Linked DNA regions of Homo sapiens. The protein of the gene in region 4 purifies or fractionates together with the protein of the main gene of each other region. This does not show direct contact. Each region holds a gene or a part of one and is shown on either strand. Other genes may lie near its edges.

What was found. Proteins that work in one complex are often made in the same cells at the same time.
Region 1: the proteins of RFPL4B (region 4) and KAT14 purify together in Homo sapiens (affinity purification with mass spectrometry; 3 studies listed by BioGRID and IntAct, with this or other methods). This does not show direct contact.
Region 2: the proteins of RFPL4B (region 4) and ZBTB10 purify together in Homo sapiens (affinity purification with mass spectrometry; 3 studies listed by BioGRID and IntAct, with this or other methods). This does not show direct contact.
Region 3: the proteins of RFPL4B (region 4) and CHD8 purify together in Homo sapiens (affinity purification with mass spectrometry; 3 studies listed by BioGRID and IntAct, with this or other methods). This does not show direct contact.

The regions. Positions count from the first base shown.
Region 1 is NC_000020.11:18,158,363-18,161,862, reverse strand, and holds part of KAT14 (cysteine-rich protein 2-binding protein), read right to left. Parts: intron 2,780-3,500; coding exon 2,598-2,779; intron 44-2,597; coding exon of another isoform or gene 41-43; coding exon 1-40. UniProt on the Homo sapiens protein: Component of the ATAC complex, a complex with histone acetyltransferase activity on histones H3 and H4. May function as a scaffold for the ATAC complex to promote ATAC complex stability. Has also weak histone acetyltransferase activity toward histone H4.
Region 2 is NC_000008.11:80,492,726-80,496,225, reverse strand, and holds part of ZBTB10 (zinc finger and BTB domain-containing protein 10), read right to left. Parts: intron 1-3,500. UniProt on the Homo sapiens protein: May be involved in transcriptional regulation.
Region 3 is NC_000014.9:21,400,624-21,404,123, forward strand, and holds part of CHD8 (chromodomain-helicase-DNA-binding protein 8), read right to left. Parts: intron 3,041-3,500; coding exon 2,830-3,040; intron 2,590-2,829; coding exon 2,394-2,589; intron 1,881-2,393; coding exon 1,713-1,880; intron 1,514-1,712; coding exon 1,334-1,513; intron 891-1,333; coding exon 780-890; intron 449-779; coding exon 252-448; intron 1-251. UniProt on the Homo sapiens protein: ATP-dependent chromatin-remodeling factor, it slides nucleosomes along DNA; nucleosome sliding requires ATP. Acts as a transcription repressor by remodeling chromatin structure and recruiting histone H1 to target genes.
Region 4 is NC_000006.12:112,346,102-112,350,129, reverse strand, and holds the start of RFPL4B (ret finger protein-like 4B), read right to left. Parts: upstream 2,801-4,028; 5' UTR 2,723-2,800; intron 938-2,722; 5' UTR 809-937; intron 527-808; 5' UTR 422-526; coding exon 1-421.

The DNA.
Region 1 (3,500 bases), on a different chromosome or scaffold from region 4:
CCCTCAACAGTAATGATGGGATCTAAAGTTGGTTTTGAGGCTGCTAAGAAAGAATAAATACAGGCTGAGTATCCCTCATCTGAAATGCTTGGGCACAAGCATGTTTTGGATTTCAGATGTTTTCGGCTTTTGGAATATTTGCATTTTACTTATTGGCTGAGTATCCCAAACCCAGAAATACAAAATCCGAAATGCTGCAAATGAGCATTTCCTTTGAGCGTTATGTCAGTGCTGAAAAAGTTTCAGATTTTGGAGTGTTTTTGATTTTGGATTTTCAGATTTGGATTGCTCAACCCATATCTAAATTTTAAAATAACTACTCAACTTTAGTTTCTTTTGCTAATTTATTATTATGAGTAATATCATGTTCAATAAAGAGAAATGTTCAATGAATGCCCTAAACTAAAAAAGACTTAGATATCTCTTGAGAAAAAAGAAGTTATACTGCAAATTTAAACAAATAAATACTATCTTTCACCTACTGGAACTGGCAAACATTAAAAGTTTAGCCAGGCGTGGTGGTGCACGCCTCTTAATCCCAGAACTTTGGGAGGCTGAGGTGGGTGGATTTTGAGCCTGGGAGGTGGTGGCTGCAGTGAGCCAAAAAAAAAGTTTGATAAAGCTCAGTAAATGTATGGGGAAATGGGCATTTTCATGGGCATTTCAATGGGTACTTTTTTTTTTTTTTGAGACAGGGTCTTGCTCTGTCACCCAGGCTGGAATGTTAGTGGTGTGATCTCGGCTCACTGCAACCTCCGCCTCCCGGGTTCAAGCAATTCTCCTGCCTCAGCCTCCAGAGAAGCTGGGATTACAGGCATGCGCCATCACGCCCGGCTGATTTTTGTATTTTTGTACAGATGGGGTTTCATCATGTTGGCCAGGCTGGTCTCGAACTCCTGACCTCAGATGATCCACCTGTCTCGGCCTCCCAAAGTACTGGGATTACAGGCATGAGCCACCATGCCCGGCCTTATTACAGTTTCTTGGAGGATAATTTGGCAATCCTGATTAAAATTTTGAATGAATATGCCCTTTGATGTAGAAACTCCAGGAATTTATCACATTTTCACATGTACACAAATTTGTAGAATTGTAGCACTGTTTAAAGTAACAAAAGGTCAGGCATGATGGCTCATGCCTGTAATCCCAGCACTTTTGGAAGGAGAGGCTGGAGGATCACTTGAGCCCAACAGTTCAAGACCAGCCCAGGAAACATGGCGAGACCCTATCTCTATTACTTTTTAAAAATGTTTTAATTAAAAAATAAATAAATAAAATAGCAACAAAAAGGTAGAAACAACCAAAATGTCCATCAACAGGAGAATGGTTTAACAAATTATCACATAATTATATAATGGATGTAATGAAATAAAATAGGGTAAATCTACATGTACTGTCATGGAAAGATGTCCAAGACATACTGGTAAGTGTGGCAAAAATGGAAAACTCATAATAGTACGAGTCCATTTTACTTTTTTAAAAAACTAAGAAAATGCTTAAATCTGCAGAGATCTTTCTGAAAGTATTCACAAAAGACAACAGTGGTTACTCTGGGAAGTGAAATTGCAGGCCATAGGCAGGTGGGGGAACTTTCATACTTTACACCCTTAAGTACTATTTGATTTTCTTCCCAATCATATTTTTAAAATTTTAAAAGCTCATCAGCCTGATCCGGTGGCTCACCCTGTAATCCCAGCACTTTGTGAGGCCAAGGCAGGTGGATCGCCTGAGGTCAGGAGTTCGAGATCAGCCTGGCCAACATGGCAAAACCCCGTCTGTAATAAAAATACAAAAATATTAGCTGGGCATGGTGGCATGTTATTTGGGAGGCTGAGGCACGAGAATCATTTGAACCTAGGAGGCAGAGGTTGCAGTGAGCAAAGATTGCACCACTGCACTCCAGCCTGGGCAACAAAGCGAGACTGTACCTCAAATAAATAAACAAACAAGCAAACAAATAAATATAAAAATTTAAAAGCTCATTAAAAGCTTTTTAGATTATAAAACCAGATCAATATGTGATAGTAAGAAGTCACTGTTAACATCTTTTTAAATATGAAAATGGCATTATGGTCAGGCTGCAAAAAGGAAAGAATCCTGATCTCTTAGAGATACATACTAAGATATTTAGGAATGAAATGTTGATTCCTGGGATTTGTTTCTAAATAATCCAATTGTAAGAATGGGGAAGGTTGGGGAAAAGTACTGAGGATTTAGATAAAATGAGACTGTCAGGAGTTAATGTCAAAGTGAGGTGGAAGGTACATGGGAATTCATCATGTTATTTATTACGGGAATTTTAAAATATCTCTTCACCTTTGTGAGAAGTTTAAAAACAAAAACCAGATGGAAAACATTGAACCTTTCAGATACCCTGGGAAATTTATAAAACTGATAGCTTGATTAGGAAGTGATAAAATGTTTTTATGTGGCATTTATTTCTAGCACACACACAAGTGTCATCACAGAAGTGTTAAACAGAGTAGCTCCAGAGAGGCCTGCGAGCCATGCCCAGTGGAAGCAGGAGCGTCTCCTGGGCTCACACCTGCTTGGCTCTGGTCTGACTAGCAACTTTTGTACTGTTCTCACAACAGTACCTTTTATTTTCAAAGTAGAGGCAGACAACTTCTCTCCTTCAGGTTTCATCGTTGGGGGCTTGTTATGAACAAGTTTCCACCATCCTGGCTCTCCAAATTCCTGAGCACCTGAACGGAAGTACATGGGACTTCCCACGCTGAGGCAACCTGCCACGGTGCTCCACCAGGTAGACGTCTTTTTCCTAAAGAGTCCAAGAATTTAAAAATGATTGGCACTTTTGCTCATTATACAGAAAAGACAGTCTGTGTATACTGTGACTCCTGGCCTGCAACATGCAATGGCACCTCCAGCTACTGAAGGAGCAGAGCACGAGAGGCAGGAGAGAGGCTCTGGAGTTCGCCTGCTTCAAACCCTGGCGCTACCAACTTCTAGCAGCCTCGGTTTGTTCATCTGTAAAATCAGGATAATAGAACTTACCTCACAGGGTTGCTGTGAGGATTAAATGCAATAATTCAAACAAAGCACGTGAAATACTTCTCATCACAATCATCACGATTATGGAATTCTACAGGCTAATTTTAATTAAGTTGCTTTGTTATGTGAATTAAGCACAGCTCCCAAGAATAAAGCATACAAAAAGTGTAACTCCAAGGCTGGGCATTTTGTGATAGAAGTTAACTGGCTCCAGTAAATACCTCATTTTACCCGAGGAGTAGCACACATCTCTCAATCTGATCCTATCTGCCTCGATGCACTAGAGTGGTAACAAAACTATGTGGTATACTCCACAAACACAGAGAGCACCTACTGCACAACAAAATAACAAAACATGCAAAATGCCAACTATCCGGGTTCCCTAACGGAAATTCTTTCAAGGCGACTGTTCTATTTCCACCTTGAAAAGATACATCAATCCCCGGAAATCCTAGAAGACAGTCTTTCACAAGAAGACCAGTCTAACA
Region 2 (3,500 bases), on a different chromosome or scaffold from region 4:
GCTAAACTCAATAAATTAATAAATTCTTAGTGCCAGAGACAAAATCTCAAAATAGGTCCCTAATAACTCCAGGTATCTTTGCCTCTTTGGTTCCTTCTTTAACGTTCTATGTCCACTTTTAGTATACTGATAACATCAGATATCACTGATAAGTTAAAAAAAATTACTATTTCCACAACTGGTCTTTTCAAATGTAGTGACCTTTTCTAACCTCTCTCCCAAAAAGGAAAACACAATTAGCTCAGACATTAGTCTAAACTGGCTAAACAAGGAGATTTTAAAGAAACAGACATTCAGAGCTAAATATGAAATCTTGAATTTTTTTATTTGTAAAGATGCCATTTAGTAAAACTTTAGTCTGGATGAGACCTCAATATCAAGTCTTCCAAAATTTAGAAAATATAGGTAAGTGTCCAGTTAGTTAAAATCCTTATAACCTATTATCTAGATGTTCAATATTTCCAGAACATAGGCTACAAAATAGTAAATATTTTACTCAAAGGAAAATGCTTGAAAAGTCCTAACTTTACATATTTATTTAATAAACATTAAATGAATACCTACTTTGGCCAGGGTCTACACTAGGAAGCAAAATGATTCAGTTGCTAATTTGAAGTTACTGTTAGTGGGTAAGACTCTTAAGGTGTTATAAGAGCAGAAAGCATGTGTATCTAATCCAGTTTTTTGTTTTTAAAGTGTGGGGATGCTTTTTCGAAGAAACAAGACCTGAGCAGAGCTTTAAAGGATCCAAGAGTGGGATGGGTGGATGAGCACTTCAAGTAAATGCGACGGCATTTAAAAAAAAAAAAAACAACAAAACAAAAACCCAGCATTTTAAAAAAACATAAGATGGTCTATAGCATCCTCAAAAGTTAAGATTTGTAAAAGAACTTCAATGTGATTTTCTAAAAAGCCCTACGGAATGCAAATATGCACTTGGGCACATTTCAGAGGTAAATGTCCATCCATTTTGACAAGAGCGCCATGTAATCTCAGCACTTTGGAAGGCGACAGGATGGCTGGTAGCCAGGAGTTCAAGACCAGCCCAGTCAACATAGAGAAACCCTATCTCCTTAAAAAAAAAAAAAAAGAGAGAGAGAGATTTGAATCCCCTTCTCCCTCCCAAATATTAGAACCATTGCTATAGGCACCTTACAGAGTTTTCAGAAGCAGTGATATAATCGAAATAGCAAAGAGGAGAGATGCCTATGGCAGCAAGGTGGAGATTTATTATCAGGGAATGAAGACTGCAGATACTGTGATCAGTTGGAAAGCTATTTTTCCTTTTTTTTTTTTTTTTTTTGAGACAGTGTCACTCTGTCACCCAGGCTGGAGTGCAGTGGTTAGATCATGGCTTATTGTACCCTCAACCTCCTGGGTTCAAGGGATCCTCCTGTCTCAGTCTCCCAAGTAGCTGGGACTATAAGATGTGTGCCACCACGCCCAGTTATTTTATTTTTTTAAATTTTTGTAGAGATAAGAGTCTCCCTGTGTTGCCCAGGCTTGTCTCAAACTCCTGGGCTCAAGCAATCCTCCTGCTTTGGCCTCCCAGAGTGCTAAGTTTACAGGTGTGAGCCATGTACCCTCTGGAAAGCTACTGTTAATAGGGCAACATACATGCCAGAAAAAAAAGACCTTAATTAGGGAAGATAGGTGTCAATGAGGTGTGAAGCAGAGCCTAGAAAAATAGTCTAAAAATCATCAGAACTTGCATGATAAAACAGATGTAAAGGGTGGAGGGAGAGAATCATAGGGTCATCAGCATTCCAGCTTGGGGCCTAAACAACGCCACCAACTTGTAGAGAATACAAGACCATCACCCAGTCTCCTACACTTTTGCGGGGGTAGAGGAAGAGAGGCTAACTTCAGTTACAAGTAATAGAAAGTCAAACAGCACACCTGTAGTCAATCCGTTAACAATAGGAAAATGTTATTCAGTTAAAGAAACAAGCAATTAGTATTTACTACCCTACTCAATTACAGCCCTTTTCCAATAACTGAATTAGCAGAAAAGACATTTCCAACACAAACATTTAAGTGTAAACTAAAAGCATTGAAAACATAAAAATATTACTCTGCAGCAACCCACTGGAATATACTGAAAGAACAAAAACAGTAATTTCTATTTCCAAATTTTAGAACAAATTCATTTTATAGAAGGAAGACAAACAAGGCCATAGCAAGTTTTGCCAAATACATGCTAGTGGCAATGACAAATCATAACAGTTGGTAGAGAAAAAGACAAGAAGGTCTCTTTTGCAGTTTTCTGATCACCTCTATATCTCTGAGTGATGGCATCCTCTTTGGTAGCTTAAGTACTATCCCCAGAAATTCTAATCCTGTGAGTGTTAGGGAGCAGACAGACGATGGTTATTCAGGTTATTTTTTATTTTTTATTTTTGAGACGAAGTTTCGCTCTTGTTGTCCAAGCACAAGGGCGCGATCTCGGCTCACCACAACCTCTGCCTTCTGCGTTGAAGCGATTCTCCTGCCTCAGCCTCCCGAGTAGCTGGGATTACAGGCATGCGCCACCACGCCCGGCTCGGTTTTTTTTTTTTGTTTTGTTTTTAAATTAGAGACGGGGTTTCTCCATGTTGGTCAGGTTGGTCTCGAACTCCCGACCTCAGATGATCCATCCCCCTCGGCCTCCCGAAGTGCTGGGATTACAGGCCTGAGCCACCGCGCCCGGCCTATTCAGGTTATTATAACATCCTGCCAACCAGTTCTCTCCTCAAACTCTAAACCCACATACACACTACGCAGGTGCCTCTAGATTGAAACACATACACATTTGATAATGATTCTCCCCTGCTTAAAACTGCTATTGTTGCCCATTTGTTAAGACAATAAAATTTAATGTTTTCAGCATGACAAGAGATCCTCCATGACCTCCAGTCTATCTATTCAAACTTGATTTTTCATCCTGCACAGCAACCAAACTCTCCCTTCTCTAAGATACCATTCTTCACTTTCCTCAGGCTGTGTGTGTGTGTGTGTGTGTGTGTGTGTGTGTGTGTGCGCGCGCGCGCGCGTTTTGAGGCACAGTCTTGCTTGTCGCCCCAGTTGGAGTGCAGTGGGGTGCCTGCTAGGTTCAAGTGATTCTCCTGCCTCAGCCTCCCAAGTAGCTGGGATTACAGGCACCTGCCACCACGCCTGGCTTATTTTTGTATTTTCAGTAGAGACGGGGTTTCACCATGTTGGCCAGGCTGGTCTCGAAGTCCTGACCTCAAGTGATCCACCCACCTCGGCCTCCCAAAGTGCTGGGATTACAGGCATGAACCACTCACTGCGCCTGGCTCCTCCTTAGGCTGTTTCTAATTGCACTGCCTAAATGCCCTCCCCATCCTGGTCAACACCTATTAATTAAATGCAATTAAAATTCAAGAATCAGTTGTACAAGCTTCTTCCAACCTTTGCAGGTAGAACTGATCACTCCCTTAAGAATCTTCAGGCCGGGTGCGTGACTCACGCCTGTAATCCCAGCACTCTCGGAGGCCGAG
Region 3 (3,500 bases), on a different chromosome or scaffold from region 4:
AAAACTATATTAACATTTTTCTGAGAAATGACAGTCCCCTGTCCCTCAGAATCATGTCTCTGAAAAGGTGTGAAACAAAGATCTTAAAAAACATGGTAACAGAATAAACAGAACAAACTCCCTCCAAGGCAAATATTTTTTCACATTATCCCTTCTTTGATCATAGCCCCCAATTTGAAAGGCAAACCAAGAGTATCTATCAGGATGGAGATGCACTATGCACTACCTCTAATGGTAAGTTGGGGTCTTACCCATATACCAGGAGATGCTTTTCCACCCGAAAGCAGTCAGTGCGCCCATAGGCATGATGACGGTCATGTCTGCGGGAGCGTGGCCGCTCATCATCCTCACTTTCCAAATCAGAGAATTCCACCAGGTCATCATCTTTCAGAGTGCTAAAGTGGCGCGTTTGTTTTCGTACTCTAGGTGTGTCAATTACCAAATTATTCTATGAAGAGAACAGAAGGAGAAGTAATTCTCTTCCTGATTTGCTCATGGGAAAAGAATAAGACAATTAGGGATTACAATAACATTGGATGTAACGTGTAGATACTCAGAGATTTTTTTAAATGACATGTAAAATAATCTACAGAAAGCAAAATTATTCAGAAAGCAACTACTTTTCTGGGGCCTCCTAGGTAGAAAGTATCCACAACAGCCCTTGTATACAATACACCATCATAAATCACAATTAGCATCAAATAATCAGAGTAGCTGTAAAGACTCCCGAAAGTAGTGTGGTCTTCTGCGATACTTCCTCCCTAAAAGAAGAAACTCACCTTGCTGTTGAGCAGATCCATGTCTAGGTCAGCCTTTTTGGCCCACTTTTGCCAAAAGTTGGGGTCATCCAAAGAAATATCTGTCCTGTTTTCAGAAGCAACAAAGCTTGCCTAGAGAAAAACAAATGCAGAGGTAAAGCTGACTTTTTTTTTTAAGTGGTGCAAAATCAGCAATTATGTTTTAAAAACATTTTTTTTTTGAGACACAGTCTTGCTCTGTTGCCCAGGCTGGGGTACAGTGGCACGATCTCCGCTCACCGCAACCTCCACCCCCTGGGTTCAAGTGATTCTCCTGCCTCAGCCTCCCGAGTAGCTGGGACGACAGGCGCAAGCCACCATTCCTGGCTAATTTTTGTATTTTTGGTAGAGATGAGGTTTCACCATGTTGGGCAGGCTGGGTCTCGAACTCCTGACCTCAAGTGATCTGCCCGCCTCAGCCTCCCAAAGTGCTGGGAATATAGGCATGAGCCACCATCCCCAGCATAAAAACATAATTAAATCCTAGAGATTCCGGTCTCTGTGTTTTTCTAGCCTCTGGCATAGACAGAACATGCCTTAGCAAAGGTGGAACCTTTTCCTTCAGATTCAATGGTGATGGTTGTAGTTCGTCTTAACAAGATCTGGTCAATGTCCTCTTCACAAAACTTGGAGCCTTCATCATCTTCCTCCATGATGGCTGCATATGCTCCTTTTCTTAAAAGATCTTCAATCTCCTTCTTAGAGAACTGTTGGATCTGTAAAAACCAATAGAAAGATGAAAAGACTATCAAGAGAATAATATCTAACCATGCCATAATATTTTAGCTATTATATTTTAAGAAATAATAATTGAGAATCCAAACAAGGTAGTCAAATCCCTGTGTACAAATAGCTTTTGTTTCCCTCTATCACAATGATCTACTACAAACTTATCTATAAACTAAGAGGACTCACTCCAGTAATGTTGCCATCCCGACCACTCATGGATTGAAGCACAGCCTTATCCAACCCCAACTTGAGGCTGGCCTTATCAAACATCTCTCTCTCGTAGGAATTACGAGTGATGAGGCGGTACACCTTCACAGCTTTGCTCTGCCCAATTCGATGACATCGTGCCTGGGCCTGGTTTAAAATAAAAACGAAAGGAAAGGAGAAAGATATCATAAAATTAGCAAGGGAAAGGATACAAAATACCAATTTATGATTCTTTCACCTCTATAGAGCAGCCATGAGATCAACTCAAAACCAAGAGTCAATTTCAAGATGAAATTATCACCCCATCATGTAGACCAGGGGTCAGCAAACTAAAGTCTGTGTGGACATCTGTTTTTAAAAATAAAGTTCAATGGGGACACAGGTGGGACCACCCACTCATTTACATATTATCTATGGCTGTTTTTGCGCTACAGGACTTGGAGATAAGCAGTTGCAACAAAGACTCGATGGCTCACAAAGCCTAAAACATTTACTGTCTTGTCGTTTACAGAAAACGTTTGCTGATTCCCTGACCTAACTGCCACCCTTAACTAAGGAAACAATTCCAAACTCTGTGAAAGGTCTTTCTAAAAGATCCTATTCTTGTTGAAAAATCTCCCAAGTTAGGTAGTTAGTCCCTAAGACAATGAATTCCTTTACCTGCAGGTCATTTTGTGGATTCCAGTCTGAATCAAAGATGATGCAGGTATCAGCAGCTGTAAGATTAATACCAAGTCCACCAGCCCGGGTACACAGTAAGAAGACAAAGCGGTCTGAGTCAGGCTTGCTGAAGCGGTCAATGGCAGCCTGTCGAAGGTTGCCTCTAACTCGCCCATCAATACGTTCATATAAGTACCTGTATGGGAATCGCAGAAAAAAAATGTAAGTGGCTAAGCAGAAGTGGAGACCAAAACAGCAGGCTAGGATCAATACCAGTACTCCCATATCAAAGCTGGTCAAAAACCCAAGTTGAGAGTGAGAATCTTAAAAACTTCTCTTATTGCAATTGGTGAACTCTAATTAAATCCAGGCCCTCCTACTTTTTGCTGCTTTATGAGGACAGAGTAACCACAGGCTAGGATGACTCTTTTCTTACCTCCTCTGGATTAAATAATCCTCTAGGATGTCTAGGCAGCGCACCATCTGAGAGAAGATCAGAACTTTATGGCCACCAGCTTTAAGCTTTGGAAGCAACTTGTCAATAAGAACCAGTTTGCCGGCTGAACGAACCATGGCCTGCAGGTGAAAGTCATGAGGTATAATATGGCAAGCTTCACGGAATTCTGTTAGGATTTTTTCTTCAGCACCTGCCAAAAGAAAAATCAAATTATGTTGAGATCCAGTGAACCATATTAAGGTTGTAGTCTATTTAACTAAGAAAGCAAAAGGAAAAAAATGTAATTTGACTTAAGACCAACATTTCTCACACACAGAATTTCAGCACAAAAAAGTCTTAAATCGGCTGGGTACGGTGGCTCATGCCTGTAATCCCAACACTTTGGGAGGCCGAGGCAGGTGGATCACTTGAGGTCAGGAGTTCGAGACCAGTCTGGCCAACATGGTGAAACCCCGTCTCTACTAACAATACAAAAATTAGCCAGGTGTGGTGGCGGAGGCCTGTAGTTCCAGCTACTCAGGAGGCTGAGGCAGGAGAATCGCTTGAATTCGGGAGGTGGTGGTTGCAGTGAGCTGAGATTGCGCCACTGCACTCCAGCCTGGGTGACAGAGCGAGACTCCACCTTAAAAAAAAAAAAAAATCAGCCGGGT
Region 4 (4,028 bases):
AGCAGGGAGTACCCAGGACACAGGCCAGCCTGGGATCTTTTGTCAGATCGTGGTGGATCTTCTTACACTGAGCGCTTCTTAGATCATTGGAGAAGACAAGGAGGGAGCTGGCAGTGGCTGCATCCAGGGTCACATCCTCCCGAAAATGCCGGAGCTCCTCCCTCACGTGCAGACTTTGCTCAAGTCGGCTATTGTGCTGCTTGGTCATAAGTGTTAGGACGCTCACTTGCCATTCTTCCAAAGCAGGTACCTTCACCACGTCTCGACACAAGGGGCACATCGCTCTAAAATCATGGTTTTCTAGTATATACCTCTGGATGCAATCAAAGCAGAACACGTGTGTACAAGAGAGAGAAATGGAACAGGAGAAAAAATCCAGGCAAACTGGACAGGACAACTCTGCTTGCAGGCGTTTGGCCATGGTTCTTAAGGGTTACTCCTTAGCCGTGAAGTAAACTGAAGTGATCCTTTATTGGCTTCTGGAAGCACTTGGGAGCCCTCAGTACACAATCCACTCTTCAATAGTCTAAATCCAAGATTAAATAATATAAATTAATAAATAAGTTATTGGCATACATAAATGAATTATATTATTTAATAAATAATAATAAATTTATTAACTAAGAAATTAAGAATAACAAAAAAATAATATTTCTGCAGTTTGTGTATGAAAGTGACACTAAATTGCTAGAGAATCACAGTAATGTAGTCATGGTGATAAAAATGATTTCGAAACTCTTCAAACTCTAGATAATCACAAGACAGAAATAGGACAGTGGAAACTTTCTTTTCAGACAGTGCAGCTTACCTAGTCTGAAGACTTCCAGGTGATGTGTTGGCTGCTCCGGCCAAAGTTTCTCCTAATGGGGGCTGAATTCAAGTGGGTCTTTAACAGAATCTCAGTATAGTCTCCACTCAGTATTTCTTTGTAGATCCTCTGCAGTTCAGGAAAAAGAATGTTCATGTCTAAATTCAATAATGAAAATAAAGCCAATTCTACATTAATCATCACAGAAAAGTGACTCTAAGGAATCCTCAGAATTTCCAGGAAAATTACCACATGTGAGTAAAGCCAGCAAAATCCACTGCAAAATGAGAAGCCCATAAAAGAATCAAGTTTAAGGACAAAGTGTTATTAGATGAAATGCTTTAAAGCACTCTAAGAAAACTAATTAAGGCTTGAATTAATGTGAATAAAAATATAATAGTCATCAACTTCTCCAAAATAATCATGCCTGAATACAAACCAAAAAGATGTTCCAGACAAGGAAGATGCCCTCCTGTTACCCCAACTGCTCCCAAAGCTTGAGAGCCTCTGGTGCTCCCAGAGGACTTCCCACCATGGCTATTATTCTTTGAGTGAGCTGTCTCTGACATGCTGGGCACAGCATATTGGACCAGGCTAGACCCATGACCCAAAGACAGCCTCGCAAAGCTGGACAGCACCTTTGAGATTATGTGAACAGAGGACTGTTCTCCAATAAGAGCCTGCACTGAGCAGTAACTAGCAGAACTCCTTACCAAGAACCCACAAATCACACATTCAGTGGTGACAGTAGTAACAGAATGAGGGACAGAAAGAGGAGCAGCATCAACATTACCAGAGAGAGGAAGTGATGAACACCGATGAGGCCAGCCTAAGACTGAGTTACTAGAACTGTCCTACATCCCAGAACACATTCTCTAATCTCTTTCCAACAAATACTTATTGAGCCCCTTCTGTGCTCTTGGCCTCAACTGGACTCTGGAAACACAAACGTGTGTAATAAACAGGGTATCTGCCCACATAAAACTTTGTCTTCCAAGTCCTGATCAGCATTCCAATCTCATGGTGCCTGGCTGGCGGACAACCAGAGATTACCTCTTTCTTAAATTCTGTTATCTTTTTCAATTTAATGGGAAATTTAACATGGTGCTGGAAATCTAATTGCCTAACCCACCTTGGAATGTATCTAAGAAAACAATTTTACAAAAGAAAAAAAATGCTACACTTATTCACAAGTTGTTCATTTCAGTGTTAACTACCATCCCAAATGATCAGGAACAATCGAATTATCTAACAATAATAAAATGATTCAGCTAATTATGACACAACTACTAAAAGTGGCCAAGTATATTTAAGTGAAAACCCGAAGTGAAGTCTTTTTTTTTTTTTGAGACGGAGTCTTGCTCTGTCGCCCAGGCTGGGGGTGCAGTGGCTCCATCTCGGCTCACTGCAACCTCTGCCTCCCGGGTTCAAGCAATTCTCCTGCCTCGGTCTCCTGAGTAGCTGGGATTACAAGCATGTGCCACCACGTCCGGCTAAGTTTTGTATTTTTAGTAGAGACGGGGTTTCACCATGTTGGACAGGCTGGTCTCTTGACCTCGTGATCCACCCACCTCAGCCTCCCAAAGCGCAGGCGCGAACCATGGCGCCCGGCCGAAAACCCAGAAATCTTTTAAGAAATGTTGGAAAATAAAAAGAAACCATTTTAAAACCATTTAAATCCATTGTAGTTGAAAACACATAAAAATACAAGTTCATGCAAAGAGTGACCTGAGGTTCATATGTAAAAATTTAAATGGCAAAGTTATAGTTAAAGGTGAAGAAAGCTCCCTGGCACAGGAAAAAACTAGTTCTTTCTCCTCTAAAATAAATAGTTAAAGGCATTCGAAAACACCAGTTTGTAGCCAAAGACAGAATAGGACATTGGAAATAGCTTAAACAGAAGGTATAACTTACCTTGACTTGGAGACTTCCAGCAGAATTCTAAAAGATCCGAAGCCTACGTCTCTACCTCTACAGACCTCTGCTCCTCTCGGAGTTTCCGCGGAGAGACACCAGCGTTTTTATACTGCCTGGAAAACATTGTCCAACCAATCAGAGTCAGAGGCTCCGCCCCAAAGGTTGTACCACTCTAATCTGAGTAAACTCATCAACCCACCCTTCCGTTTATGATGATGACATTAAAGCAGGCTTCAAATTATATAGTAAAAAAATTCAAAATTTCTTAATAACTCCCTGAATTAGAGTGAATCTACTGCCATCTGCTCTTGTCTCTAATTTCAGAACTCAACTTTAAAAAGCAAAATGTGTTGGAGATCAAATACAGAAATGCACTGCTGAAACCTAATCACCTCGTGGCTAATGTAATCATTGGTGTTCCTATTCCTGATAGAATCATGAGCGGACAGGATCTACAACAGTTTTCATGTCCTTTGACTCAACAATTCTACTCTTAGGGGTACTTACTGGACAGGATAAGAAAGATGGCAGCTAGGCAAGGCTATTGTCCTGTAATTATTAATAATTCCATTTTTTACTCTCAAAAGTGTTCTTGGATGAACGGTAAATTTTATGGTGTCTGTATCGAGAGCAGAAGGAGCAGTAAAAGTCACAACAGAGGAAAGCTAAGACACAAACTTCCAAAAAAGGATTTGGAGGGTGAATGAAGTCCCATTGTAGAGAGGATCGCTGGAATATACGTTTTCCCCAAGAGAGGCTGCATTCTAAATAACCTCTCCTTTCTCAGGCTTCCTGTTCTGCAAGGCCCAACACACAGCTTACACAGCTTTTACTTCATTTTTACCTGGTGCTATCTCCTTTTCTGTGAGTTAAATACTTGCAGGAGCAGGTCTCAAGCGTTGCTGGGGTTTTTTTTTGTTTTGATTTTTGACACAATCTTGCTCTGTCTCCCAGGTTGGAGTGCAGTGGCTCAGTCTCGGCTCATTGCAACCTCCACCTCCCAGGTTCAAGTGATTCTTGTGCCTCAGCCTCCCTAGTAGCTGGGATTACAGGAGGCCAAGGTGGGCAGATCACATAAGTTTAGGAGCTCAAACTTTTTAAATTGTAATCTCAAGACCCTTTAAACTTGAGATTTTAATCTCAAGAATCCTTACACTCTCTTTTTTAATTATTCAAAAATGTCATTTTATTTTTTCTTTCATTTTATTTTGAAATAATTTTAGACACAGAAAATTTGTAGGAATAGTAAAAAGAGATATATTCTTTACCCAGATTTACTATTTGTTTTTTAATTGTCTGATGT